Linked DNA regions of Homo sapiens: all the other regions are linked to region 3. Evidence: fine-mapped expression QTL. A gene starts in region 3. Each other region holds a variant in brackets. All regions are shown on one strand. Distances are from middle to middle. Region 1 has its middle 8.4 kb from the start of ALG6. Region 2 overlaps PGM1 (phosphoglucomutase 1). Region 3 holds the start of ITGB3BP (integrin subunit beta 3 binding protein).

Region 1 (8,335 bases), 160 kb after region 3:
AAAGAAAAAAAAAGTTGGTGCATTTTAAAGGCAGATGGGAAAGAATATGAAATGAATACTATTAATCTCTAAAGTCAGTTTGACTAATAGGTGATGGCTTCAATTATCTACTGCTGTGTAACAAATTACTCCAAAATTTAGCGGCTTATATAGCAATGATTTTATTTGCTCATGTTTCTATGGATCAAGAATCTAGGCAGGGTTCAGGTAGGTGGTTCATCTGTTCCACTGGGATTGTCTGAGGTCACTCATGAGGCTGCATTCAGCTGGGAGATCAGCTCAGGCTGAAACATCCGTGAACAGCTTCAGCCCTCTCTCCACAGGGCTTCTCTCTTCAGAAAGTTTCGCAAACTTTTTACACGGCAGCTCACTTCCCAGAGAGAGCATTCCAAGCGGCAAAGGCAAAAGTTGCAGATCTCTTACACCCCAGCCTTACAAGTCACACAGCAACCTAGCCATGATACAAGGAGAGTGGAAATAGATTCTGCCTCTCAGTGGGAAGGTAGGAAAGAATTTCCGGCCATCTGTAATCCACTACAGAAAAGTTGGGATGAAACTAGAAATGGGCAAGAGCCCAACTAACAATTTTATTTCTCACCAGCCAAAAAATCAGAGTTCAAATCCCCTTACTTACTTGTCTTTCTGCCATGTCTTTTGCAAAAGGAGCAACCTCTGGTGGCCATTTCATGTATGTAGAGTAAAGATAATCTCATGGTACAAATTGCATATAACTTGTTTTGGCCTGAATTGTAGCCCTCAAAATTCATATGTTGAAGTCCTAATCCCCAGTGCCTTAGAATGTGACTATATTTGGAAATAGGGATTTTAAAGAGGTAATTAATATTAAGTGAGGACATTAGGATGGGCCCTAGCCCAACATGCCTGGATCCTTGCAAGAATGGAAATTTGAACACAGATATGCATGCGCACAGAAGAAAGACCATGTGAAGACAGGAGAATAGGGCCATCTGCAAGACAAGGAGAGAGGCTTCAAAAGAAATCAACCCTGCAGACACTTTGATCTCTGACTTCAAGCCTCCAGAACTCTGAGAAAATAAATTTCTGTTGTTTAAGCCACGCAGCCTGTGCTATTTTGTTACAGCAACCTTAACAAACTATTATATACTTTATTGAAGGTACTGTCAATATTTAATCAGCTAGGCAAACTTCCTCACACAAATCATACTTTTATAATAGTTTCTAGTCCCTTTCCTAGATCACTTCCACTCAGTAAGAAAACAAGCCCTTTTCTATATAAGTTTCAGATCTTCTCTGATTTTAACTGAAAGCCATTCACCTGATCATAACTATTCTTTTAAATAGAATCTATTTTCTTATCAGTACCTGTTCCTTAATTGACCCTTTTATGGGTCAAAATGACTCATTTTCCATTATTCTGTAACCTCTAAGTCTCATTATACTCTTGCCCCATGTAGGGCATAAGTTCACCTGAGTAGCAGAATGTTAGAGTTAAACTTACATTGTCATGTTTCAGTATAGGCATTAGCCAAAGTCTTTCATATCCAGCTCACTTGATCTTCACAGTAACTCTGAGACAATGGTAGAACAGGTGTTATTATCCCCTTCTGACATATAAGAAAACTTGAGAGTGACATTTCCCCAAAGCATGTTCTACAGAACTCTCATTCAGTGAGATAATAACTATTGTCACACACAAAAAACAGGAAGGTTCTAGGCTCCCTAGTTGCAGACTGCTGTTCTGGTGTCTCTGATGCCCAAATGTTCTCTCTCTCTTTCTTTTTTTTTTTTTTTTTTTGAGACAGAATCTCATTCTGTTGCCTAGGCTGGAGCGCAGGGGCACGATCTCGACTTACTGCAACCTCCATCTCCCATGTTCAAGCAATTCTCCTGCCTCAGCCTCCCGAGTAGCTGGGATTACAGTCATGTGCCACCACACTTGGCTAATTTTTGTCTTTTTAGTAGAGATGGGGTTTCACCATGTTGGCCAGGTTGGTCTCAAACTCCTGACCTCAGGTGATCTGCCCACCTCAGCCTCCCAAAGTGCTAGGATTATAGGCATGAGCTATCACGCCAGGCCAACAAAATCTCTCTCTAAAGGCTACCATAGTAAGTAACACTTCCTTTACTCAATATCATTTATTCGTCAAATGTTTTCTGAGCATCTGCTCTGTCTATGCCAGATGCAGAGCCATGTGCTAATAGAAACCAGACAAGTTAGACTTGGTGGCTGCCCATCAGAACTTCACTTCTAGGGAAGCTAGAAGTCTAACTGTACACCATGGGAAGGAGAGTCTTTCAAGGAACAAGGAAATGTATATTATGCCAAGAAATACTACAATGAAGCTTATAATTATTATACAAAAGCCATAGGCATATGTCCTAAAAATGCTAGCTACTACAGTAATCAAGCAGCCACATCGATTATGCTTGGAAGGTTCCAGGAAGCTCTTGGAGATGCACACCAGTCATTGAGATTGGATGACAGTTTTGTTCAGGGACATCTAGGAGGGGGCAAGTGCCCCCTCTCTCTAGAGAATGCCATGGCCACATGTTAGTTTCCAGAGAGCCCTAGAACTGGATCATAAAAATGCTCAGGAATAACAGGAGTTCAAGAATGCCAATTCAATAATGGAATATGAGAAGTTAGCAAAAACAGATTTTGAGAAGCATGATATTAGGAAGGTTGTTCTCTGCATGGACTGTGCCCGAGCACTTGCCCCTGCCTGCCATTGCTTCAAAATCCTCAAAGCAGAATATTTAGTAATGCTGGGTCATTATCCAGAAGCACAATCTGTGGCCAGTGACATTTTACAAATGGAGTCCACCAATGCAGATCCTCTGTATGTATAAGGTCTTTGCCTTTATTATGAAGATTGTATTGACAAGTCATTTCAGTTTTTGTATAGGCTCTTAGGATGGCTCCATGAGAGGGCCTGCGTTGCTTGCAGAAATCCCAAAGCACTCAAAGCAAAGAAAGAAGACAGAAATAAAGCATTTAAGGAAGGAAATTACAAGCTAGCATACGAACTGTACACATGACCCCTGGGGATAAACCCCAACAATATAAAAACTAAGCTAAACTCTACTATAATTGGGTTATGGTTAATTCTAAGCTTAGGAAACTAGATAATGCAATACAAGACTGCACAAATACAGTGAAGCTCAATGACACCTATTTAAAAGCCTGCTTGAGAAGAGCTCAGTGTTACATGAACACCAAACAGTATGAAGAAGCAGTGCACAATTATGAAAAAGTGTATCAGACAGAGAAAACAAAAGAACACAAACAGCTCCTAAAAAATGCACAGCTGAAACTGAAGAAGAGTAAGAAGAAAGATTACTACAAGATTCTGGGAGTGGACAATAATGCCTCTGAGGACGAGACCAAGAAAGCTTATCACAAATGGGCCTTGATGCACCATCCAGATTGGCACAGTGGAGGCAGTGCTGAGGTTCAGAAGGAGGAGGGGAAGTTCAAGGAAATTGGAGAGGCCTTTACCATCTTCTCTGATCCCAAGAAAAAGACTCGCTAGGACAGTGGACAGGACCTGGACAAGGAGGGCATGAATATGGGTGATTTTGATGCAAATAGTATCTTCAAGGCATTCTTCAGTGGTCTTGGGGCTTCAGCTTTGAAGCGTCTGGTCCAGGGAATTTTTTTCTATTTGCCTAATGAAGGGCAACCACCTAGAACCCAGAAAATGCAGAGTCACTCAGTTTAATCTTGAATGTGGATGCAATTCACATCATGTCTCCGTGTACTTACTGCAGTTCTGTTTTCTCAGTTGGACATCCAGTGTCTGTGTGAATGGGGTGACGGATAACGAACCAGTGTCAAAGACTGCAATTAGGGGATGGAGGTAGGCAGATGGACAAGGAAGCAGCTTGTGAATTTTTATTTTACTCTTTAACTTTATTAAAACAGAAAAAAAAAAGAAGAGAAAAAAAGGTGTGAGGACAGTCTCTTCATACAGACAAATAAATTTTATTTATTTATTTTTTGAGACAGAGTTTCACTCTATCATCCAGGCTGCAGTGTAGTGGCGCAATCTCAGCTTACTGCAACCTCCGCCTCCTGGGTTCAAGCAATACTCTTGCCTTAGCCTCCTCAGTAGCTGGGATTACAGGCGCCCACCACCATACCTAGCTAATTTTTCTATTTTTAGTAGAGATGAGGTTTCACCATGTTGGCCAGGCTGGTCTCGAACTCCTGACCTCAGGTGATCCGCTTGCCTTGGCCTCCCAAAGTGCTGGGATTACAGGCGTGAGCCATCACACCCGGCCCAGACAAATAAATTTTAAAACACTAGGTTACACAAATCTAAGGAAGAAAGCTTCCTTACTTCAGATCTTCTTGGTGCCTGTTTTTTAAGGCAGGGTCTCACTATGTTGCCAGGCTACCCTCAAAATCCTGGCTTAAGGTAATCCTCCTGCCTCAGCCTCCCAAGAAGCTAGGAGTATAAGCACATGCCACTGCACCTGGCTTTCAAAGCCTTTTATATGTTATGTACATCATGATTCTCCAAGAGAATATAGGATTTTTAGACTCATGTGACTATAGACTCCTATCTTCACACCC[A/G]CCCCACCTCCCACTTCTCGCCCTGAAGAATGGTCCATGAAACACACTTTTGGAAATGCTGGTGTGAGACACTGCACAATTTCCCTAAGAGATACAGCAGATAAGTATCTGAACATAGATCTTAGCTAACTTTTATTCATTTTTAGGGCTATTTAAAGGAAGTCAGAATATGAAATTTGCTGATTAAATTAATGATAAAGCAAAATTAAAATGGAAAAAATAAATTCCTAAAATTCAAAAATAAAGTGAAATAAAATAACTTAACTATATATCCAGCTGATGGCTCTGCTACACAAAGAGACTGTTCCAAGTGACTTTAAAACATATAATTTAGCCAGCATAATGGCCCAGCTGTAATCCCAGTTACTTGGGAGGCTGTGAGGCAGAAGGATCACTTCAGCCCAGGAGTTTGAGGCCAGCCTGGGCAACATAACGAGACTCCATTAAAAAAAAAGAAGAAGAATAAACAGAAAAAACACAGTAGGGCCTAGGTGCAGTGGCTCATGCCTGCTATCCCAGCACTTTGGGAGGCACAGGCACGAGGATCACTTGAGCCCAGCAGTTCAAGACCAGCCTGGACAACATAGGGAGATCCCATCTCTACAAAAAAATTTAAAAAATTATCTGGGTGTGGTGGCACACACCTGTGGTCCCAGCTACTTGGGAGGCTGAGGTGGGAGGATCACATGAAGCCCAGGAGGTTGAGGATGAGGTGAGCCATGATTGTGCAACTGCACTCCAGCCTAGACGACACAGTAAGATCCTGTCTCAAAGAAACGAAAAGGAAAAAACACAGTAATTTGATGGTTAATTCCTAGTTTGATATACCTTAAGGGAAAAAAAAATCTGTTAAAATAATTAAATAATTGTTAGTAATCGTATTGTGGGTATTAGGGTTGGAATTGTTATTCTGAGACTACTATATGTGTAAAGTGGGATAAAGAAAATGAAGATATATATGCTATTCAAATTCCATCATGGCTGGTGTTTAGAGACCATGATTCTTGGCATGGGAAAAATGAGTTAAACATGAAAGATAAGGTTAAATATTTCTTTGTTTTTCTTTTTTTCTTTTTTTTGAGACAGAATCTTGCTCTGTCACCCAGGCTGGAGTGCAGTGGAATATCTCAGCTCACTGCAGCCTCTGCCTCCCAGGTTCAAAGCGATTCTCCCGCCTCAGCCTCCCGAGTAGCTGGGACTACAGGCACACACCACTACCCCCGGCTAATTTTTTTGTATTTTCAGTAGAAAATGGGGTTTCACCACGTTGGCCAGGCTGGTCTCAAACTCCTGACCTCAAGCCATCTGCCCGCCTTGGCCTCCTAAAGTGCTGGGATTACAGGCTTGAGCCACCGCGCCCAGCCTAGAAGTTAAATATTGATATACATTCAGGGTTTATTTTATAGAATTACTGGAAGGAAGAAAGGAAAAAAGAAAGAAGGGAGGGAGGGAATGAAGGAGGGAGAGAGGAAGAAAGGAAATTAAAAGTAGGCCGGGCACAGTAGCTGACGCCTGGAATCTCAGCCCTTTGGGAGGCCGAGGTAGGCGGATCACTTGAGGCCAGGAGTTAGAGATCAGCCTGGCCAACATGGTGAAACCCCATCTCTATTAAAAATAAAAAAAAATAGCCGGGTGTGGTGGCGTGCACCTATAATCCCAGCTACTTGGGAGGCTGAGGTATGAGAATCGCTTGAACCTGGGAAGCAGAGATGTCAGCGAGCCAAGATCACCCCACCACTGCACTCCAGCCTCAGAGACAGAGCGAGACTTCGTCTCAAGAAAAAAACCAATTCAGTTTTAAGTTGATTCCAATTTGGTTCCTCCAAATATAAGGTTGGTTTCCGAAGCTCCAAAAGAGATTCCTTTCATCTATAAGTCTGTTCTGTGGTTTGAAACAAGGGTGATCGTGTGTGTGTGTGTGTGTGTGTGTGTGTGTGTGTGTGTGTGTGTGAAAGAAAGGGAGAGGGAAGGGGAGGGGAAGAGGTTTCAAAATAATGAGCTGGTTTATTAGCTTCCCCATTGGTGACAATTTTTTTAAAAAGTATCATGAACTCATGGAGAATGTGACAGACAATTCACGTTCGATGTGTTTCGATCCAGTGTCGTTACTGTGCTTACTGGTGCTCAGTGTGTCCCATGGCTAGTGGGAGTCTCTTTAAGTTGGCTCCTGAGTCCTTCTGACATGACATAGCAGTCTTTACTTGGATCATAGTTTCCTTGCTATCTGGTATAACAAGATGCTCCACGTTTATTTTTGTATGTTTATTTTCCAAACCTGTAATTAGCTATTTCTTCAAGAACCCTGGTTCCTTTTAGCAGGAAATGGTATTTCAAGACCACATTCTATGTGCTGAGGATGCTCATTGCTATTGGGTTGCTTTTTGGTTTTAGTCCTTTCTGTGGAAAGAGCTAAGAAATATGCCCTTCCTTCCTTCCTTCCTTCCTTCCTTCCTTCCTTCCTTCCTTCCTTCCTTCCTTTCCTTCCTTCCTTCCTTCCTTTCCTTCCTTCCTTCCTTCTTTCCTTTCCTTCGTTCCTTTTTTGAGACAGATTCTGGCTCTGTCGCCCTGGCTAGAGTGTAGTGGTATGATCTCAGCTCACTGCAACCTCCACCTCCCAGGTTCAAGCAATTATCCTGCCTCAGCCTCCCAAGTAGCTGGGATTACAGGTGCCCACCACCACACCCAGTTTATTTTTTTATTTTTATTAAAGATGGGATTTCTCTATTGGCCAGGCTTGTCTCAAAACACCTGAGCTCAAGTGATTCACCCATCTCAGCCTCCTAAAGTCCTGGGATTACGGGCGTGAGCCACCACACCATGCCTAAAAATGAATTGTTTTCTACTGTGAATAGAGTAATTTTGATTTCTATTGTTTAAGTGATGCAAATCAAGTTAAATTTATAATTACTTGTGAACATACTCATTCATTCAACAAATATTTATTGACTAAATAGCCTGCCCTTAAGGAGCTTACACCAGTAATTTATACACAGTTCAGAAGAATATAATCATTGTTATTTTTACTGTCAATTTCAGATGCCAGCTGGAATTATTCTCATATATATACATACATACAGATGTTTCAACCATATATATGTATATAATCATACATATAAGAATAATTTTGTTTATATGGATCATAAAAAAAAGTTACATCTTTATGGATAAAAAGAGTTCTTTAATGTGACAATATAATGTATTCATTGGTTCACGGACCCCCAAACCTCCAAGGAGTGTTACAAATCTGCATCTCTCTCAGCCCGGGATCTTGAATTTAAATTTAAATCTATAATATATGGTATAACTTAGCCCAATGTATTTTTGGACAATTATAAACATCCATAATTCCCAATAATGAATAACACTGTTGGGTCAGTGCTTAAGTAGATTTGTAAAGCCAATGTGATAACACAAATGCTGCTTTATTGCTTTATCTTCAGTGTCTTTCACAACTGAGTGGATTGTCACACTCTATTATGTGGCACACAGATCCATTGGCTTAGAGCTATCATGGTGCTTATCTAAAATGGTCTTTGAAAATGAAAATTTGGGCTAAACATAAAGGAAGCAACCTGCCAGTAAGAACTATTCAAACCAAAAATTCTTCCCAAGGGAAATGGTAAGAACTCCATTTTAAAATCATATAAATCAAGATAGTAGGAGGTTCCAACTTGTAAAATTTACAGTAAATACATCAAGATTTAAAGTCTGATTTTGAAATAGATTTTTATTTATAGAAAGGGATCAAAGTCTATGCCAGTGAAACAGGGTAAA
Region 2 (8,335 bases), 79 kb before region 3:
ACTTGAAAATGACAGTGATTTTCACCAGATTTGGAGGGAATGCTTAGGACAGTATAAACTATTGGTTGTTTCCCAACATCAATTCTCTGTTTCATTTGGTTTGTCAAATCCCCAATGTTTAGCTTGACAGATGACACCCAGAATAAGACTGATATTTCACAGCCCTCCTTGCTGCTAGAGGTAGGCTTAGCTAAGTTTTGATTAATGCGACATGAGTGCAACAGATATGTTCAATCTCTGAGAAAGGTGTGCCTTCCTCCATCTTTCTCCCCTGTTGGCATGTTAGCTGGCATGAAGGTAAGGTGGTGGGCAGCCATCCCGGACCTAGATAAGAGCAACACTCCAGGGAAGGCTGCACAACAGAAGAAAAGGGGCATGGGTCCCTGTGTATAATGGAGCCACACATCAGCCCTGGACTGCCCACACCCAGGATATGAAAGGAAGGGTTCCATTACTATCAACTTTTAAGTACTTTATTTGGAAACTCTGCTAACAGCAGCCAAACCTACATTTTAACAAAAAAGTTGGTATTCTGTACCAAAACAGAATCTAAAACATTGGCATCAGCATGCTTTTTATGGCATGGAAAAATTTGTTGCCTCTGATAGCATGGAAGGCAGACCACTGGCCAACCAAATTTGTAGCTTGAGACAAATGGTTGGCAGAATTCAGAACATGAGTGCTTGTCAACTACCTCTTGCTACAATAAAGACGGGAGCTCAGGCAAGGGCTGGCCATTCTGCAGAGAGAAATAAAGGCAGGTTGGGTTCTGCTAAGGGAAGTTTTGTTTTTTGTTTTTACTGTGGCCTGCAAATGATACCGTCCAAGTCCAGGAATTTGTGCCATCACAGAGTTGAGATGACAACTATTTGTGAAACCAAGTTAAATCAGCTATACAGTAAGCAGCAGGCTTAGCAGAGAAGGCTGTGTCTAAAATCTTTCCCAGGGCTAGGTGCGGTGGCTCACACCTGTAATTCTGACACTTTGAGAAGCCAAGGTGGGTGGATTGCTTGAGCTCAGAAGCTGGAGACCAGCTTGGGCAACATGGCAAAACCTCATCTTTACAAAAATACAAAAAATTAGCCAGGTGTAGTGGTGCATGCCTGTAGTCCCAGGCTGAGGCTCAGGTGGGAGGATCACTTGAGCCTGAGAATTCGAGGCTCCAGTGAGCCATGATCACACCACTGCACTCAGCCTGGATGGCAGAGTGAGACCCTGTCTCAAAAAAATAAAAATAATAAATAATAATAAATAAAATATTCCCCAGGATTCTCTGTCAGACAATGGGAACTAGCCCACCAGCAAAATCAGATTAAGGATACTGCCTTCGTACTAGCCTATCTTTTCCACCTGTCTCAAGGTAGCCATCAGTAATAGAGAAATCAAGGGAGGCACAAAGCATCCAATAAATACAAGTCAAAGTTTTTAGGTTTCAAAACTATCTAGGTGAGAACTTTCACTGTGATTACCAGCACATGGAACTGATCAGGATAGGCCAGAAGACTACTAAATTTGTGAAGGTACTGTACAGTGAAAGAGCCAGGAGCCTGGCCTGCAAAAGTCACCCCTGCCTCTTTTCCTCCAACTTTCATCAGCAGGAAGCAGGTTACATAAGCTGTACAGCCCCAAAAGGACTTTTAGGGCCTTCTCCAATGTCCACTCTTACTCAATAAATATATTTACATGAGCAGGTGGATAGAGTTCCTCCCTGAGGGTGGAACCAGGGTTCCCTGTGGACCTACTCCACTGCCAGGACAGGAGTGTGCATTCCCAGCCAGGACAATGCGACAATGTGAACACTCCTATGGCTAGTGACTGGTCTACATATGTAAATATACAACTATATCCCCTCTCTTTACACACACACACACACACACACACACACACACACACACACACAGAGTTATGTAACTCCCTCCCTATATATATAGTTATACATAGTTATGTAGTGGGGACAGGGGGCCTGATAATTTGTCTTTAACTTTACACAAGGAGCCACACATGGGCTTGATGGAGAGAACTATGAACACTGAGTACTGACTGGGTAACTGGAAGGAATCTGGGGTGCCTCCACTGGAAAGGAGTGCTGTGTTTCAATGGGCAGGAAGAACAATGGGCATGGCTGTCTTCATGGCCAAAGAGGTGGACCATGGCACATATTTCTAGTGTTCCTTCTCTTCTTTAAGGTAACAGAACCACTCATTTTCAGGGGGCCATATGCCTCTCAATATAGAGTCTACATTTTCAGCCCTTCTTGCAAGTAAATGTGGCCTGCATGTTAGATCTTCCCAGTGGATTGTGAGCAATAGTCAGGTACACAATTTCCTGATTTTAAAGGGGGAAGACACTCTGCCCCATCTCTCCCCTGTGCCCACTAGATGAAACATGGATGTGGTAGTAGAAGCCATCTGCAACCAGATGGGCAAGGGCAACACCTTCAAGATGGCAGAGCAACAGGATTAAAGAGGCTGGGTCCCAACATCATGGATCCATCATGCTAGTCTTGGCCTGCTGACCCACAATATTCCACAAGACAGAAAAACATCTTGTTTAATCCACTGTTGTTTTGAGTGTCTGTTACAACAGCTGATTGAACCTATAAAATCGTAAAAATTCCTTATAGGCTACGTGGTGTACATCAAATTCACTTTGGAAGGCACCTCAAAGTATACTCTTTCAGAGTGGTCCAAACAGATCTGCAGCGGTAAGATCAAGCCTTGACAGGGAAATCTGAGATTTCAAATATAAGCCCGGTAGAAAGGCACAGGGCATAAGTGCTCCAAGTTGCAGGTGATGAATCATGATTGAGATGATTCTCATATGTGCACTCTGAGTAGCATCAAGAATGTGCAGTGTAGTCACATCATACAAGTATTTATCTTGCACAAATGTAACTGTTGTATATAGAACTTCCAGGGAGACAAAGAAGACAAGAGTGAAATTTAAACAGCATGGGCAATTCTGCCACCATTTCACCCAGTGACCACAGGCCCCTGCTCAGTCTTAGTCCCCACGTGCTTCTCAAAGTATGGGTATCTTGAGTGCACTTCTGCTATTTAAAGACATACCTGTTGTGTTACATGTTGTTCTCCAATGTGGTACTTTCCTATGGGACTTTAAGGATGATTTTGACTGAAGTTTCATCTTCCACTCGAACTCTAGAACCCATCCCACTGTAAAATGCAATTTCCTCTATTAACTAGATGATAGTTAATGGCTTGCCCCCATTGATCCTGGGAAGCCATCTGGTCTTACGATTCTGTTCTACTGACTCAGTTTTCATTTTTTATGTGGAACATTTAAGGAATAAAAACCAATGTGCCTCGAGGTGGATTTTGCCTCTTGTTTTACATTGTGATTCCAGAAACTGGTTTTAATTCAACCCAGTAGTGAGAAAAATAGCTCTGACTTACATAGCAAGATCTCCGCACTTCCCTACTCCACATACTCATTTCCTGCTTAAAACTGCCCAGATTAGCATTATCCTCAGCCACTCTCAGTGGGAACCTGGTATTTGGAACATGGCCCAACACCCCTTACATTCTAGGAAGAGTGGGGGCAGTTCCCAGGCTCTTTTCCTGACTTTGTGACCTGGGACACCTGAAAGGTTTGTTGTAGACAGGAAATAAGGCCATGCATGTGGCAGTAACTTGTAAAATAGAAAACATGAGGTACATTTTTAGTGCAGTTGCTCCTTGCAGAGTATGAAACAAAAATACGGAGTTGGGGGGCAGTGAGGGGAGCTTTCTCTTAAACATGCCAAATTCTCTCACCTATGGTTCTGCCTGGAACATTCCTCTCTGCTCTTCACCTTCAGGTCTGGTTTTAGTTGTCACTTCCCTACTCCCTCTGCTGGAACCAGGCACGCCTCCTTTATGCTTTCCTAGCCTCCTTTGCTCACCTCCATCCCAGTGCTGACAGCACCTTGTGGCAGTTCTCTGCTTGTCCGTAACCCACCTAGCCTCCAACACAAACCTTCACCTTAAGTCCCAAGCATGTGAGGACTGGGCCTGTATTGTTCTCTGCTGCAACCTACGAGATCACCATGAAGTTTCACCAATCAGCTCATTTTGAGCTCCCTGCCAGTTTACAATCCTCACACTTGTCGGTTTAGCCCCCAAATGGCTATGACACCATGCAGATTAAGCCCTCCGGACTCACACAATGTAGTAGCCATTTCAATTCACTCTTGAGCAACATTTCAATTCACTTGTGAGCACATTGGAGTACAACATACAGGACTAATATTTGGTCAGAAGGACTTTTGTCACTTACCTCATAACTCTACATGTGGTGACCTGGTTAGAAAATACTTATTGGGCTGAATCAATCACACTCAAAGCAGCCAAGAACAAATTCATATATTAGTTGCCAAAATAAGCCATATGGTATACATGGATATTAAAACAAAATTTCACCTTCCCTGCATGCCCTTAATGGCAGTTTAAAAAGAAGAAACTTAAATCTG[A/C]GAAGATTCTTGTATAATATAGATGGTCCTATCAACCCAGCATGGTATAGATTGGTATTTCCCAAAATTCTTCTGTTTGGGGTCCTTTTACAAACTCTCAGTACTCATATATTAAAAGCTCTGAAACTCCTACTTAACATTGCCCAAGCCAGTTTCTCCATGCTATTAACCAGCATATTATAACAATCCCCAGAACTACTTGCTCTGGGATATATTTATTTATGGAAAAGACCAACCAGATGAAATATCAGAAGACTGGAGTCCCTGTTCCAACACCATTAGCATACTGGACAAGTCAACCAAATATTTCTGTCCTACCACCTATCGCATTTCATCCTTCAAAAACACTTTGGGGTACTCATAGAGAAAAAAAGAACATCTTTCCAATATGAAAACATAATTTTCCAAGTGTTTCTGATTCATGATTAAATCTTTATTGGCATGACTTAATTAGCATTCCCCACTGTGTTAATTCAGGGCTGTCTTTATGCCTTGGGGAATCAGCTCAGTGGTGATTTGGAGAAGCTATGGGAAGGAGGACTTCCAACAGCTGAAGTTTAAAAAACTAAACAAAACAAAACCCAGCTTACATCCATCCGCGTATCCCAACACTAAGCACAGCCTTCTCACCCTTTCCAAACAACTCCCTATGCTGCCCCCTTGTGATTTCTTTCCCCTTTGAGGACCCCAGGGGAGAAAAGTCTTCTCCGCAGTCCTCCCAACTGAAGCCCTCGGCTAGCCATTACTTACTTAACACACTCAGGAGCCATTTTTCAAAGGTGGATCCCAACTGTGAGCACAGCTTCAAAGTCAGCAGAATAACTGGCTATGTCTGTGTGGGCCTCAAGGGAACTTGGAGGAGAATAAAGGGATCAGTTCAAACTTTCCTGCTTCACTTTCTTAGAAGTGTAGCTCACTCAAATCAATCTGCTGAAAGCTCTTCTAAAGTCTAAAGGGGTCCAGACTACACCACTGTGACATAAAAATTATTTTGAGCCAGTCATTTAAAAATAGGCTTTTTACTAAACTCCTTCATCTGTCTTAAAAGCAGTGTGCCCCAAAGGAACTCTGGAGTTTCACAACCAGGGAAGATCGACTCATTACCATAACTAAATAGACACTGGCATAAAACTACCACATCTCCTATCTAGTCTCTTAAGGGCTGATTTATCTCTCCTAAAGTCGTGGTTTCCAGCAAATGCTCTTCTCCTCTTCCGCCTTCCCCTACTGAGATGATGTATAGGCCCCCAAGTCTAACTGCCTCCTGTCACATTTTTCTGTAAACTCCCACAAATGTCTTTTTGTTGCTCATTTGTCTTTTACATTTAATTTGCAAGCCCCCAGTATATAACCTAGGAGGGTAGATGAAAAGTTTTCCCTACCCTAGAGTCCAAGAGAGAAAAAAATTATTGTTAAATATTTGATCAATGTTGATTACACATCTTATTATCCCAAGATAAATTTATAATAGAATAATACTTATAATCTATATGCAAAATGTCATAGTATATTGGGACCCTTTGTACGATAAAATGTATGCTACATTTATTTACCTGAGGCATAATTTTATAACATTAAATGATTATATGTGTTTATCCTTTCCATCTAACTCTTCCTCTGTCTGGAAGTCTTTTCACGGATATCTGCATGGCTCACTCCTTCACTTCATTCAGGTCTCTGCTCTCATGAGGTTTATCAGACATCCCAATTGCTGCACTAAAAAGAGCAGCCCATCCTCTAATGCTGTCCCCTTTACTGGGTTTTATTTTTCTTCAGAGAACTTATCTTCATTTGACACGTTTATCATCTGTCAGGCTCAACGAGAACCCCACAGCTCTGTAGAGCAGAAACTTTGTTCAATTCACTGTTGTATCCGTAGTACCGAGAACCTAATAGGTGCTCAATAAATATTTATTGAATGAGTCACTCTTTCCAAAACAGTAGAGCACTCTTCCCTGTTATCTTGTTTACAAAAACAAAACAAACCCTCTATCTCAGAAAGGGAGAACGTTTTTCTTTTTCTTCTACAAAATTTCATGAGCATTAGATTTGATTAAAAAAGAAAAAGGAAAAAGATGTTTCACCAAGAGCATTAGTGAAGCCAAGAAAGAAAAAGTCCCAAGCAAGCTGATTTAAGTATTTTATGTAACAAAGATTGTTTAGTGACTAAGTGTCCGGCTCTAAAAAAGAGTCCTGCCTATTCTCTCTTTCTCACTTCTCTCGGCAGGTCCCCTTCCTGAAGGGTAGCCCCATCTTCTATCGCACACTATCCGCTCTTCAAGACATAATTGGTTTTAGGTGCAGGCACCTCTTCTTTCCCAATCCAAAATGTTCTCTCTCTCGCTGAGCTCAGCATGTTTTCTAATTCTGTTCTTTGTATGTCTATGTGTTTCTTCTGTCTTATCTCCCCCAAAAGATTGTATGCTCCTGGATGGAAAGGACAATAGGTTATCCATACTGGCATTCAGTGCTGATTCAAAATCAGAAAGTGTAAACAAGGGGAGAACAATTGTTCAAAGCCCACCATAATTCATTTTATATTTATTTATTTATTTATTTTTGAGACAGGGTCTTGCCATCGCCAAGGCTGGAGTGCAGTGGTGCAATCACAGCTCACTGAAGCCTTGACCTCACAGGGTGAATGTGATCCTCCTACCTCAGTGTCTCAAGTAGCCGAGACCACAGGCGCCCGAAACCACACCAGATTAAGTTTTTTTATTTTTTGTAGACAAGGGGTTTCACCATGTTGTCCAAGCTGGTTTGGAACTCCTGGGCTCAAGTGACCCACTCAAGTGCGGTAAGCCACCATGCCCGGCCCCACCATAATTAAAAAGTGGTTTTTTTTTTTTTTAAAGTGGGGGTTACAGCATGTTAAAAAGTGACTTGGGCCGGGTGTGGTGGCTCACGCCTGTAATCCCAGCACTTTGTGAGGCCGAGGCGGGCGGATGATGAGGTCAAGAGATCCAGACCATCCTGGCCAACATGGTGAAACCTCGTTTCTACTAAAAATACAAAAATTAGCTGGGTATGGTGGTGCACGCCTGTAGTCCCACCTACTCAGGAGGCTGAGGCAGAAGAATCACTTGAACCCAGGAGGCGGAGGTTACAGTGAGCCAAGATCCTGCAACTGCACTCCAGCCTAGGGCAACAGAGCAAGACAGTGTCTCAAAAAAAAAAGTGACTTGAAGGTGTTTCTCTGCCAAGTCATCCCTGCCCCAGGGATATAAGGTTTAAAGTTAAAGTAGCAAGGTGTCTCCACCTAACTCCAACTACCCAAGAGTCTCAAAACCTTCCCCTTCCTGCTCAGTGTTCTTTTATTTCCTTTTCAAGAAATGTGAACTGCTATAGCCAGAAACATGTTCCTTCAGCAGTGTTTGCAGATGGATCTCATGAAAGTTCAGAAAAGGGTGGTTCACTTCAAGCGGGAGACAGTGGAGTTCCTCCACTATAAGGCGAAGTTTGCAAAGTCCCACTAGTTTGCTCTGAGAACATGAGACCCTTAACCTCTGGGTCATGTGTTTGAGGTCCATTTTGGTGCAGGCATCACCTGATGCTAAAAAAGGATCATTGTTTAGTGTGGGGTTCTTAACTTGGGATGCTTACATCCCCTTCCCCTACCTCAAGAGGTCCTTGGGTAGAATTCAATGGGATCCATGAATATGAATGACAAAATAAACAAAACAATCTTTATTTTCACTAACATCTAACTGAAATTTAGCACCTCCTTTTATTATAAATGTAGGAAGCAAACCACAGTATTATTACTACTACTGCTACTATTACTACTACTACCTAGGAATTTATCATCAATAAAAATTATATTTTCATATCCTATTATAGTTATCTCAAAATACTGAGATTGCAGAC
Region 3 (5,000 bases):
AAATAAAAAAACCCCAACTCAATTCTCTTTTAAAAGTTCACTTATCTCTCAGTACTTCACTTTTTCAGACATTCCACCCATTTTTACACATCCTTTACACTTTCCTCAGTATGGGTCAAATTCAGGCTAGTGACTTAAGAGGCCAAAAGCGTTTTAATTTTATTATGATAAATCTTAAAGCACCAAAATGAGAATTAAAAGTATCTTAAGCAAGTAGTAATTGATAGAAGCTTTCAATTACCCATCTAGTTTGTATAAACATTGAAAGTTTTATTTTGTAGTTCCTAGAATATGTAACTATATGATATGACATAATAGCTTACTGTAGTTCCATTGCTCAAGCTTCACTAAGAAACTGGGATGATTCAACAAGGTAATTCTAATTTCAGTCTTTCGGACCTATTTATTAACTTTCAACAAAAAGGTGAAAGATTTAAAAATTTTAAAAATTTACCTAAGTAAAGTTGATCTTTAGAAATAATGTTTTCCAAGCTGCTTTTGAAGACAGTTAAGTAGGCAGCTCTACAATTCATATAAAATATTTCCTCTTCAGTTAGTGGAAATTTCTTTGTTCGAGGACTCTCTGAAGGTGTTGATTTCTGACTGGAGAAAGTTGCATCGCTTCGTGGACTGATCGCCATTCTATTGGAAAATAATTTAAAAATGTGTTTGTCAATGTGAGTCACTAAAACACAAATGTCACCATGTCTTTCAAATACAGGGAGGAGAATCAAGATTTTATACATAGAAGAAAATTTATAACATATATGAAAAGATCAAGATATTAAAAGTTTTATATGTGGAAGTAAAAGACGAATACTATAGTTGTATATGGACGTATTATATATTAAACAAGAATAAGCCTTTGGCAGTTAATTTCTAATTTTAGATATATACATATGTATATATATAATTGTTCAAATATGTGATAATAGCCAAAAGAACAAAGATATACACAAGAGAAGAATCACTGAACAAAGGAAGAGCACACATCTATTCTCTCAAAATACGAAAGTCAGATGACAGTCTTCATCAGGTTTTTAAGAGGAGCAAATCAGTTAATACATGTGAAGCATATACAATATTGCTTGACACGTAGTAAGTGCTAAATAAACTGCAGATAATGAGAAACTCCAGAATAATGAGAATCGGGATATGAGTGGTAGTTGACACCCATCTTCCACAGCAGGATCAACAAGATCATTTCATTAACATCTCAATAATGCAGCCCCACATTTCAAATAGCTATATTTTAAAAGTCTTATTTATAGCATTATCATAGTTTTACTGTGTTCCTTTATTAATAACAATATTTGGGGTTTGTATAGCACCTCTGTACATAAGAGCTTAAAGAACTGTCATACATCTTGTCTTATCCCTATTACAGCGGTCAGGTATTTTTTTGTCCGTTTTACAGATGAGGAAATTGAGGGGTAGCAATGTCACCCAGCTAGCAGTAAGTGGCAAAAAGCCGTAAATTTCACGAACAGTTTCTTCTTTGTTAATGTGGATATAGTACTGAACAATGGTTACTATGGGGTATTAGATTCTACTGGTGGTCTAACAGCTTCCAATATTACTCTACCCAGCTTTGACTTCTAAAAATAGATCTCCAACCTAATAAATTGAATATTTCAAGTTCAATAATAAGATAACACAGGTAGGGTCCCCTTCAGGACTCATTGCATTCCTACTCAGGAGGCCTAAATCACTTGCACCTTTTCGAATTATATAGATCATTTACACTTGGGAAAGAAAGATAATAATTGCTTATCATGGATGAAGTACCCTATTTATAATACGCAGGCCGCCTGCCTGACACTTTCATATTACACCAGATTTAGAAGGACCCCACAGGGATGTGGTGTCACAGTCTGGTTACTGCAAATTGGTAATACTATAATTAAGCATCAGAGTTCTAAACACATATGTGTGCATGCATCTCCTCACAAATGTGAAAGAAAACTGTTTCAAGAAGTAAGGGAGAATGAATTTCACTTTGCAATAAGCAATTTTAAAATATAAGTATATTTTAGGATCGTCCTCAAATATTCTTTCCAAACAAGGCAACTCCCTCACATGGAAATCCCAAGGCAGAAATGTGCCAGAATTTTATTCTTTTCCTTTCTGTGACGAGAAACCAAACTAAAGCTTAAATAAACATATAATTGCACCCCCCGCAGGCTTGGAAACCTCCCTTACTTAAAACTCCGGCCCGAGACTGAGACAGGGGCCTAGAGAGTACATTGCAGCAAACGGCTCCATAAATAACCAGCCACACAATAGCAAGAAAAATAAACTGTTAACAAGCGCCTAAGGCTTCTACAGGGCCAAGTGAAAACAGAAAGCCGTCCAGTCACCGTCCCTACACAGTGAAATACCGTCACAGGTAATCTCGGGCACCATCTCTCTATTTTTGTATTCCTCTGGAAATAAAACCGCATTTACATGTACATTTTAGGTACATACATGGACCAAATGTTTATGACAGAGAAGTAGACAAAGCAGAGGAAGGAGAAGCAGCTGCACAGAGAGGGACAGAGGGAGCGAAGAGACAGAGACAGCGAGCTGTTTGCTACCTAATTCTAGCTCACAAACAAGGAAGCGCAGCCAATTCTCTTCGGCGATTCAGCGTTCCTCTCACCGCAGCTGGACAGATCTCGGCCTTTCTCTAATCACCATGGCAACTGCACCTCACCGCCACCGGAAATAAGATGCAGAGCCCTTCTCCAAACGATCCGGCTAGAAATCTAGGAAGCGCTGATCCGGAGCGCACAGAGACAGCTGTGTTGCTCCTCTATCGCGGGGGTGGTATGGCCAGAGTAGTGAGAGAAGGTGCTCTGTTACACCAGCAGGAAATAGGTGCTGTCCTGGGCCTAGAACTCCCCGCTCGCTCCTTTGCTCGCGCACACCCGGATCCTTCGTCGCGGGGAGGATGTTTCCGCCCGGCCGCGGTGGGCTTGACGCAACGTCCAGCGCGCGCTTTTCATGCCTTGGCGTTTCCTTTGGCGGATTTTCTGTTTTCGGAAGTTGCTGGGTTCGTTTTATTCAGCGGCAGTGGTGCTTTCCCGAATCTCAGAATGCCGTAGGTATCTCCTCCCCAGGTATTGCTGTTTTGGGGGCCCTCTGCAAGAAGAGAAGATATTATGTGGCCCAGTAGCCTTTCTCGTTTTCCTATTTTTTCGGAGTATGAACTTGTCTCCTCTGTCCACAGGCAATTCCCTTCGCTTGGTACCCTCAACTCTACGTCTCCTCCAGCGGTACTCATACGATAGTCCTCCTTCGCTTTCTGTTTCTACGATGCTTTTGACAGATTTCGTAAACTGTGGGCTGTATTTAGGTGATGTCTAACTTGAAATAACATAAATAAGGTTGACACACAGGATGGGACAGAGTAGATGAAAACACGCCTTCGTAGTTTGTCAGTCCCTTGCCTTCATTAATGTGGCGCGTTCGTGTAAACCCGTGGGAGAACTCATGGACTGAGTGGGTCTAGATACCTGGATTCCAGATAAGACTCTTTCACTGTTGGGCAAGTCACTTATCGACCCTGAGCTTCGTTTTTTTTTACTTACACAAATAAGTTTGTACTGCATGATCTCTAAATTCCCATCTATGACCAATAATCTGATTATTGAGAATGACCATAGTGGGAATAGGCATTGTGCTAGATAAGATTCATCTGTTTTTCATATCCTTCATCCATCCTATATTGAGATGCATAAAATAGTTGCTACCCTATAGAAACTTAAAAAAGCCATTAAAGGTTGGGGGAGTGGGGTGGATATCAAACACCTGTAATTTCTCCTTGGCCGTCCTTGTCCTCAGGTTGATTTAGGTACCCCCTCTAGTGTAACCTGTTCCTTAGTTTATTTCAGGATTAAGTAAAATGCAAAGTAACACAGCTGGGGAAATTTTTGTATCAAATAGGAATTGACATGAAAGGGGAAAGCTGTACAGAAATGATAACCTATATTTATTGAATCTTGAATTACAATGTGGGTGCTGTATTAATCAATTTATCTACGTTTTTTCATTGAATCCTAAAATACTTTAGGGGATGGGGGCTGCTATTATCTTTACAGATAAAGAAACCCATCACCTAATAGGGTGTTCAACACAGCTGCCAATAAATGCATGTTTTACTGATGCCCTTAAAAGTTATGGATTATTGAGGAGGTTTTCCTTTCCCCAGAATTAAGCAAAGAGACTTGTTTCCCTACTCTTGCATTAGAAAAATCATCCAGTTCTCAAATAAACAAAGCTGCAAAGATAATGTCACACAATCACACACACAAAATCCCTAAGAATACAGTGAAAACAGAGGTGTATTTGCCAAACAAGTGGTAATACCTCCTGAACTGTGTGTATCTGTGTATAGGAGTGGGGAACCAAAAAACTATGAAAAGTGGAACTTTTTTTTTCTTTTTTTGAGGCAGAGTCTGGCTCTGTTGCCCAGGCTGGAGTGCAGTGCTGTGATCACAGCTCACTGCAGCCTCTACCTCCTGGGCTCCCACATGCCACCATGCCTAATTTTTTTATTTTGTAAAGACAGTGTCTCCCTGTGTTGCCCAGCCTGGTCTTGAAGTCCTGGGCTTAAGTGATCCTTCCACCTCAGCCTCCCAATGTGCTGGGACTATAGGAGTTAGCCACTGTGTCAGGCCTAAAAGTGGACCTTTTTGACAACTGTCTTCCTAACATATGCACACAAGATGTTATATTAGGCTTTTAGATAAGTATATTCTGGTAATAAATACACAACCTTAAAGTTGAGGTTAACATCTCACATATATAGCTAATATATATGTGAAACTAGCAATTACTTTGCTAATTTTCTAAGTTTTAGCAAAGTGATTTAAGACTAAATCAACAGTTAAGTAATGCATAAAACGTAATGGCATGTTAGTAGAGAATCTCCATCATTGTTAGTAAATTAAGTGTTTTTTTTTTTTTTAATGTGGTTACTGGTGAGGTCATAAATGAGTGGTGCAAATAGTTAT

What was found. PIP is the estimated chance that this variant, and not a neighbour inherited with it, causes the effect.
Region 1: its variant is the best candidate, but not a certain one, in a credible set for the expression of ITGB3BP in coronary artery (GTEx, PIP 0.64).
Region 2: its variant is the best candidate, but not a certain one, in a credible set for the expression of ITGB3BP in whole blood (INTERVAL, PIP 0.66).

What each region holds. Positions count from the first base shown.
Region 1 is chr1:63,355,109-63,363,443 of GRCh38, reverse strand. It overlaps the pseudogene LOC441887. Among named protein-coding and RNA genes, the nearest start is that of ALG6, 8.4 kb to the left of the region's middle. The variant A/G (reference allele first, on the strand shown) is at 4,562.
Region 2 is chr1:63,598,483-63,606,817 of GRCh38, reverse strand. All of the region lies in intron 1 of PGM1 (phosphoglucomutase 1), which reads right to left. Among named protein-coding and RNA genes, the nearest start is that of PGM1, 9.2 kb to the right of the region's middle. The variant A/C (reference allele first, on the strand shown) is at 4,469.
Region 3 is chr1:63,521,214-63,526,213 of GRCh38, reverse strand. ITGB3BP (integrin subunit beta 3 binding protein) reads left to right here and starts at 2,989. Exons shown (of 9, transcript NM_014288.5): 1 at 2,989-3,085. The coding sequence starts at 3,081. EFCAB7 (EF-hand calcium binding domain 7) reads right to left here and starts at 2,689. Exons shown (of 14, transcript NM_032437.4): 1 at 2,580-2,689; 2 at 455-642. The coding sequence starts at 641. RefSeq lists enhancers at 2,726-2,805, 2,967-3,590.